Homo sapiens: one gene and its partner. The protein of the gene in region 2 interacts with the protein of the main gene of each other region in a pairwise test. Each region holds a gene or a part of one and is shown on either strand. Other genes may lie near its edges.

Evidence for each region.
Region 1: the proteins of CA12 (region 2) and ATP5F1C interact in a two-hybrid assay, tested with the Homo sapiens proteins (one large-scale study listed by BioGRID and IntAct).

Annotation. Positions count from the first base shown.
Region 1 is NC_000010.11:7,801,677-7,805,500, forward strand, and holds part of ATP5F1C (ATP synthase F(1) complex subunit gamma, mitochondrial isoform L (liver) precursor), read left to right. Parts: intron 1-593; coding exon 594-749; intron 750-1,081; coding exon 1,082-1,178; intron 1,179-3,824.
Region 2 is NC_000015.10:63,322,746-63,326,569, forward strand, and holds part of CA12 (carbonic anhydrase 12 isoform 1 precursor), read right to left. Parts: intron 3,613-3,824; coding exon 3,540-3,612; 3' UTR 1-3,539. UniProt on the Homo sapiens protein: Reversible hydration of carbon dioxide.

The DNA of each region.
Region 1 (3,824 bases), on a different chromosome or scaffold from region 2:
CCTATACACATAGCCTGAAGGCAATTTTATGCAATATTTTAAAGAATTTTCTGCATGAAACAAAGTTTCAAATGCACCCCATCACACAAGGTCAGGTGTGGAATTTTCCACTTGTGGCATCACGTCAGTGCTCAAAATGTTTCAGATTTTGGAGCACTTCAGATTTTGGACTTTGGGATTAGGGATGCTCAACCTGTATTACACTAAATTCGTTTCAATTCATTATTATTCTTTTTTACTGGAAAAAGCATTGAGTGCTTGCTGGCTTTGTAACAGGCACATGCTAATGCTGTCCAGAGGGCTTCATAACCACGAGATATAGTGCAGTTATTTCAAATGTTGACCTAATTTTTCTAAAGTTACACATGTGGAGTAGAATATCAAATGGTTTATTTACACATTATATTTTGCTAAAAATATGCTATCATCTGTAGTGTGGAAATAGATGACATTATTAGAACAGATTCATTTACCTTATCTAGCATTAATTTCTGCTCTGTAATTATAAAGGAGTTTTACACTGAAAAGCTGTTTTTGATGAATTACTATTCCTTCCATATAACTTGAAAGAAACTCATCACTTGTTTTAACAGACAGCATGAGTATCTATGACGATATTGATGCTGACGTGCTGCAAAATTACCAAGAATACAATCTGGCCAACATCATCTACTACTCTCTGAAGGAGTCCACCACTAGTGAGCAGAGTGCCAGGATGACAGCCATGGACAATGCCAGCAAGAATGCTTGTAAGTACACAGTATGGACAGTGCCAGCAGGAGTGCTTGTGAGCACACAGTGAATCTCAGCTGAGAGGAGTCCGTGGCCGAGAGTAGCATCAACAACATTAACATGATATTCCTGTACCTGTAAGAAAGTATATCTTGATAGGTAGTTGATTTGCAAGTACTGTGAAAAGGTATCCTATGGAAGATGTAAAAATATCTTCATAACATTATTTGAGAGGCCAATTTTGGTATCCAAAAATTTCTTACTTTTAAATTAAGCAACAGAAGTTAGTTAACAAGTTATTCTACTCTAGTTTCAGATTTTTTATGTAGTGTTTTTGTTTTGTTTGTAGCTGAGATGATTGACAAATTGACATTGACATTCAACCGTACCCGCCAAGCTGTCATCACAAAAGAGTTGATTGAAATTATCTCTGGTGCTGCAGCTCTGTGAGTAATTGTAGATTGTCGCCTTCAGAGAATTTTTTTTCCTCTTGCTGTGTCTGCTTGTTTGGATGCTTAAAAGTTTTTCGTTTTTTTCTTTTGAAGTTGAAACTCATTGCTGAAACTTGCATCCTAACTCTTAGGCTATAAAGATGTGGTAAAAATGGGACCTCTTTGCTTTATTTTTATTGTTTCAGCTGGAAACACTCGGGCTTAGTTTTCGGTTTTCTAAAGGATTAGGAATGGGATGTGGATAATTCAGTATCATTTATGAAATCTTTTTTTGGAATTTAAACAATTGTAAGCCAAGCTTTCTGAGTTACAGGGCTAGTTTCAGATTTGGTTTTACATAAATCTATAAACCATTGCATGTTGGGAAGGTCCAGGAATTTTTTAATCATTATGTTTTTTAATCATTATGTTTTCTATATCAGTACCAAAAGATAGTATAGCCATCCCTCAGTATCTGCAGTGGATTGGTTCCAGTACTCACTCTCACCTCCCCCAGGATACCAAAATCTGAAGATCCTCAAGTCCCTGAAATAAAATAGCACAGTACTACATATAAAAAATGCACATCCTCTCGTATACTTTTAATCATCTCTAGTTATAATGCTATGTAAATTGTTGTTGTATTGGTTTTTGTTTTTATTATTTTATCATTATTTTTGTCTTTTTTCCAAATATTTTACATCGGCTGTTGGTTGAATCCATGGATACTGAGGGCCAACTATATACTGCTTTCCTCAAGAAAATTTCTTAGTTGTTGAAAAACTTTAATGTTTATGAAAAAAAGGTTAAGATAATGGGAATTTTATTCAAAAAGTTATTAAGTTGAATACCCACTATGTGCACAGTACAGTGCTAGACACAGTGTTAAGGATGTGATTCTCTCTTTTAAGGCACTTATATTCTAATAGGATAAGAAACATACAAGTAATTGTGATTAGATAAAACGTGTAGTAAGTTCTTTTTGACTCGTTCCTTCTTACCTCCTGCTAATCAGTTACCATGCTCTTTAAGTTTTACCTTCTAACTATCTCTTGAATCTTCCCCCTTCTTTATGCCCACTTAATGCAGATCCTTGTCATTTCTCTCCTGGGTTCAAAAAGGTAATTATTTGAGTGCCCCTTAAGTGTCAGGCCCTGTGCTAGACACTGAGGATACAGTGGTAACAGTATTTGCCTTCAGAGAGCTCAGTCTTCACAGTAAAGGCAGACACTAAATAAGAAGTCACAGCAGAACAGAGGTTGCTAAACTGTGGCCTGGAGCTAAGAATGGGTTCTGCATTTTTAAAGGGATATAAGAAAAAGGAGAGTGATAGCGTGTGACCCACAGAGTGCAGAATACTTGCTGTGTGGCCCTTCACCGAAAAAATTTGCCTATTCTTGTGACAGTGTTATGAGGAAAATAACAAAATCCATTCTCTGTTATACACTCATTCTGCAGAAACACTCGATGTATGTGATCCTATATTTTCTGGTCACCAGCACTCTTCCCAGTCCAGTCTCTTACCATTACCATTTCTCACGTCCTTGAACCTCAGCCACCTTGATCTACTTCCAGATCTACAGATTCGTCACTCTTTCTCGCGGCCAGGGAGTGGCATGTGCTGCAGCCTGAAAAGCCACTATTTCTTCCCTTGCTCCCTTGATTCTTCATCTGACTGCCTCCTGTGTATCCTTCCTTACTCAGCTGGGGGAATCCTTTCTTCCAGAAAACACTCCTTCCTTCAGTCTGAGTGAGGCAGCCTTCTGCAGCATCCTGTCTTCCATTTAGCTTAGCTCTTACAGCCTTGTATGAGGAATTGGCTTTTTATTTGTCTGTGTGCTCCTCGAGGCTAGGATGGGACCATATCTTATTCACTTTTGTGTCCCCATTGCCTGGTACATACCTCCTTCGTGAATGTTGAATGAATGAATGAAATGCCATATGTATTCAGAACTGGAAGTTCAGAAGAGGGACAAATAACATTTTATTGGGTGTATGAAAATGTGGGTCCATGGTTTTAAGAGTCAGGGAAAAGTTCATCACTATTTAAAGTGTTCCTTAAGTGTTACTTTTCAAGGGCAGAAACTGGGCAGAATGCCAGAGAGACACAACTAGAACTTTTTGAGCCAACAGAGACCTTTGTGTAAGTTGTTAGTTGGATCCATCAGCCTCGCTATCCTAAGCATTCTTCTCTTATTTTACTTTCTAAGCACAGCTGTGTTAGGACTAACCCATTCACAGCCTGGTCACCAATGTTCTATCAGCATCACAGAATACTGTCTCATGGTGTCTAGCTTGATGAACTTGGTTAGGATACTCTCTCTGTTACTCAGCTTTGTCATCTGTAACATGGGGACTAATACAAGGACTAAAACCTTCTATTAGCCATTATCCTTCTTGCCATCTACCCCATGTTAAAGCCAGGCTGATTTGTTCTTGGATCTTAAGTGTGACAAAGCCTGCGGGAAGGAACCACATTCTGAAGGTTTGTGGGCTGTGTGAGATCCAGAGAACCCAAGGGGGTTTTTTTGCTCTTGACAAACGAATGTTAGGTATGACCTATGATGATACAACTTCTGCAAAATTGAGGACCAGCCTATTTCTTCATTAGAAATGCAGGAAACCTGGCCGGGCGCAGGGGCTGACGCCTGTAATCTCAGC
Region 2 (3,824 bases):
CTGTGCGTGGCCATGACACCTGGCAGGATGCCAGAGCAGGGAGAGCAGAAGCATCCTGTGTTCTAGCAGAGTACAGACCATCAGAAATGTTTCAATTCCAAAGCTGGGCCAGGTACTGTCACCCACTGGAGCCAAAGTACCCTTGAACAGTTCACCTCTCTCAGGCTTAGGGTGATTATAGTGAAAATTGGATGCTTTTCTAAATAAGGCAAACAATGATGGTACCTATTTTATAACCTTTACTGGACTGCCTCTTTTTGCCCCAGTCAGAATGTGAAGTCTGGATTTAGACAAAAGATTATTTGGACGGGTGATAGTATGTTTTGCAAAAAGAATTCAAAATAAGGTAACAGGCAACCAAGAGGGGCTGCCCACCTACTAGGTTTAATACTCTCAGGAGTAAAGAGACATAGGACCTGTTCCCTGTATCATGTCCCCTTGGTTGGGAACACCTCCCTCTTTTCCATCCATCTGTTCAAATCTGAGCTATTTGTTCAAGGTGCAGCTCCGATCCCACCTCCTCCAGGGTCTTTATTTAATTCCTCTAGGCTTCCCAGCACCATTAAGCAGCTTCGCGACCTGCAGCCACACATGCCATAGGCCTCCATCCTCAGGAAAGTGATTGAGTCTATCAGCTTATTTTCCTTTGGAGCCAGGTTCTAAGAAGTGGATGCGAGTGACATTATTATTCTGATTAGTTACCTATCCCCATAACAGGGAGCTACAGAGTGCTTTGCAAATAGTAATGCTTTAACCTCGCCTCCAAAAAAAAAAAAAGAACAGCCTGATGTGAAAAACATTTATAATTTCTTGTAGTTACAGTGTGTATCTTCATTATAATCATTCTTACAATAAATACAGAAGTGCTAAACAGACCATTATCACAGTGGCCTGTGGGCTGAGGCACAGGAACTGAGGGGTGCTGCAGACACCAGTGCTTCTCCAGGGCTGGCCAGGACACCTTCAGAGAGGCTAGTGAAGAGGAGAGGAATGTAGGGTGAATTTGAAATGTGATTAATAGAGTCAATGCAGCACATGCTAGAAACAGATACAGAGTTTTTTGTTGTTTTTTAACTATTTTACCAGATGATACTAACTAAACAAACAGAACAAAGAAAGAGATTCAAGATCTCACATGAGTGAGAATCCAGGGCCTTCCCCTCTGGCCCTGGCCCCAGCCTGGGCCTTGTTTTTGCTATTTCCACCTAGGCATCTGCCATGCAGCAGAGTTAGGAGCGTGTGGGCGGCTGCTGAGACTCACACACCACAGTACTGGCATCCTTCAGGGGCAGCTGGCATCAGTGGAATGAGTGCGGATCCGAAGAAAGGTTTCCCAGTTCCAAAGCTGGACCCACAGGAATCCTGTGAGGATTTGCAAAGACATTGATAGTGTTGGTTCTTGGAGCATCTTTCTGCCTCCCGGGCTTTGTCTGGTCTCAGCCTCGGGGCTGCAATCCAGGGCTGTGCTGAGCAGCAAGAGGAGAGGAGAAATGCCACTGTCTTGCACCTCCCAGTAAGTCTCCCTTTTCATGAACAGCCCTTGTGCCAGGTACAATGGTCTCTCTGTTCTCTCACAAAACTCATCCACAAAAGATATACAGAGTCTTTTGACAGACAGTCCCACTGCTCTGGAGTCCTTTATGTTCATTTCTGATTGACAATTTTGGACCAAGGCCAAGAGGCCCCCTAATTCATGTTGCTTCGTCATGAGGGTTGTCCTTGTCATCTGATGATGCATGAGGCATGCTAATGGCAAGGCCGGGATGCCACCCCAGGCTTCGAGGCTGTTAGAGGTCTTGAGTGCACACACACACACAAACACACAGAGAGACACACACACATTTGAGCTCCCATTAGGTCACTTGTAACTTTGCCTAGCAAAACAGGCTCCCAAGACATAAGGCTTGCCATCGTTGTGAAAAGTTGTGATGGTACAGAATAATTTTTTTTTTTTTTTTTTTGAGATGGAGTCTCGCTCTGTCACCCAGGCTAGAGTGCAGTGGCATGACCTTGGCTTACTGCAACCTCCGCCTCCTGGGTTCAAGCGATTCCAGAAGAGAGAATTCTTAGAGTCAGAGGGAGGAGTAGAAGGAAAAAGATATTTAAAAAGCTATGCTTCAAGAGGACATTTCATGCTGTCAAAATGAGACTGTGAATCAGAAAGTTCTCGGGGAACTGCAAGGTGCTCTCAACTAGGGGTCGGTTCCTTCTCAGTCATGGCACTGACTCATCTCCACAGGGTTCTCACCTGCGGGAGGAAAATGGAGGAGTTGCGCCTGTCAGAAACTGTCTGTGTGATTCGGGGAAGAATATGGAGTATCTTAGTAGCATTCCATTATTACTTGCCCCTAAATACATGATGCCAGCCCCCTGCACAGATAACCTCCTGCTTTTATAGCTTGAAATATATTTGATCTAAACCACGATTTGACATCTTCAGAGAGAGAGAAGTAGATAAAAGTCTCCATTCCAGGTTGGCAGTAGGGATCCTGCAGAAGTGGCTGAAATGAAATTTGGCCTACAGAGAATAAGTTCTACAGTCATTTTGTTTCTGCCTATTTCCTCCAGATTCAAAGGCAGATTGGGTCATCTCGGAACTCATGTCTCCTCCAGGACACAGCAACAACACATTTTCAAGGAACAGCCTCATTATTTGTAAAATCTGTAGAGTATAAAACATAACTGCTCCACTGACAGGAGGTTGGATTTGGACTTAATATTGTATTATTCTGTCCTTACATTATGGCTTGATAAACAGAATGTGATTCCAATTCTGATTCCAAAGTGAGACTCTCCCAGATCATCCATGTCTTCTCATTCTCTTTGTCCCTCTAGCTCTCTCTCCCTTCTCATCCCCACCAAGAAGTGGAACTTGAACCTGCCATTCCCTAAGGTCTGTGCAGTGTCTGTGATCCAGAGGACAGGACTGTGAAAGTGTCCCTAATATATCACAATGTATATCTCTTGTTTTCTTTTTCTCTCTACAACTTGATCCTTCCTGTCCCCATTTGTCCCCGAGTTGTAAGGTGCAGATTAAAGGTTTTGTCATAGCAGAAGGAAATCAGAGGGAGATGCCCCGTCTCCAGAGGAAAGAAGTTGAGTTTCCCAAGCAAAACCTAAGCAGAGAGTGCACATTCTTGTCTGAAAGCTTGGAGAAGCAGCAGAATTTCCAGGACACTTGAAAGCACGCTCTGGCAAAGCCCCGGATGAAAGTGTTTTCCAACCATTAATGGCCCACCAGCATGGCTTGGTTTGTGATTCCAGAATTCAGACCACTTCACAATCTCACACAGTTACAGCAAGCAGCTTTGAATTCCTGCTGCTTGGTCTGAGAGTGCATCCCATCCATCGATCGGATGGCTCTGGGGTGGCCATGGTCCCAAGGCAAGGAGGCACCCAGCAGAGGATCCCTGAGGCCTGGCATGTTTGCAGATTGAGCTACAGAGAACACCTTGAGGTGTCGCAAGTGTCCAGAGAGCCGAAGTGTGTAGGGTCCAAAGCAAGGTCCTTCCTGGATGTGCCCGGGAGCTCCGGGGACCTCAAGCGTGGGCCTCAGTCTCCATCTTGGTGGCTGGCTTGTAAATGACTCCCTTGTTATCACCTTTTTTGATACTAGAACAGAAAGAACACATAACTCTTGTTAGAGAGGAGAGCGAGCGAGCCAGAGAGCAGCCTGACTCAGGTATGGAATGAGGCCGTTTTTAAAAGTTGGATTCCTCTCTTTGGGACCTTTCCCCAATTCTGTTGGTCTTGGGAGGGAGTGTCACCAAATAAAGCTTTAACAAAAACAGAACTTGTTCGTTTTCCAACTGTTCTCTTTCACA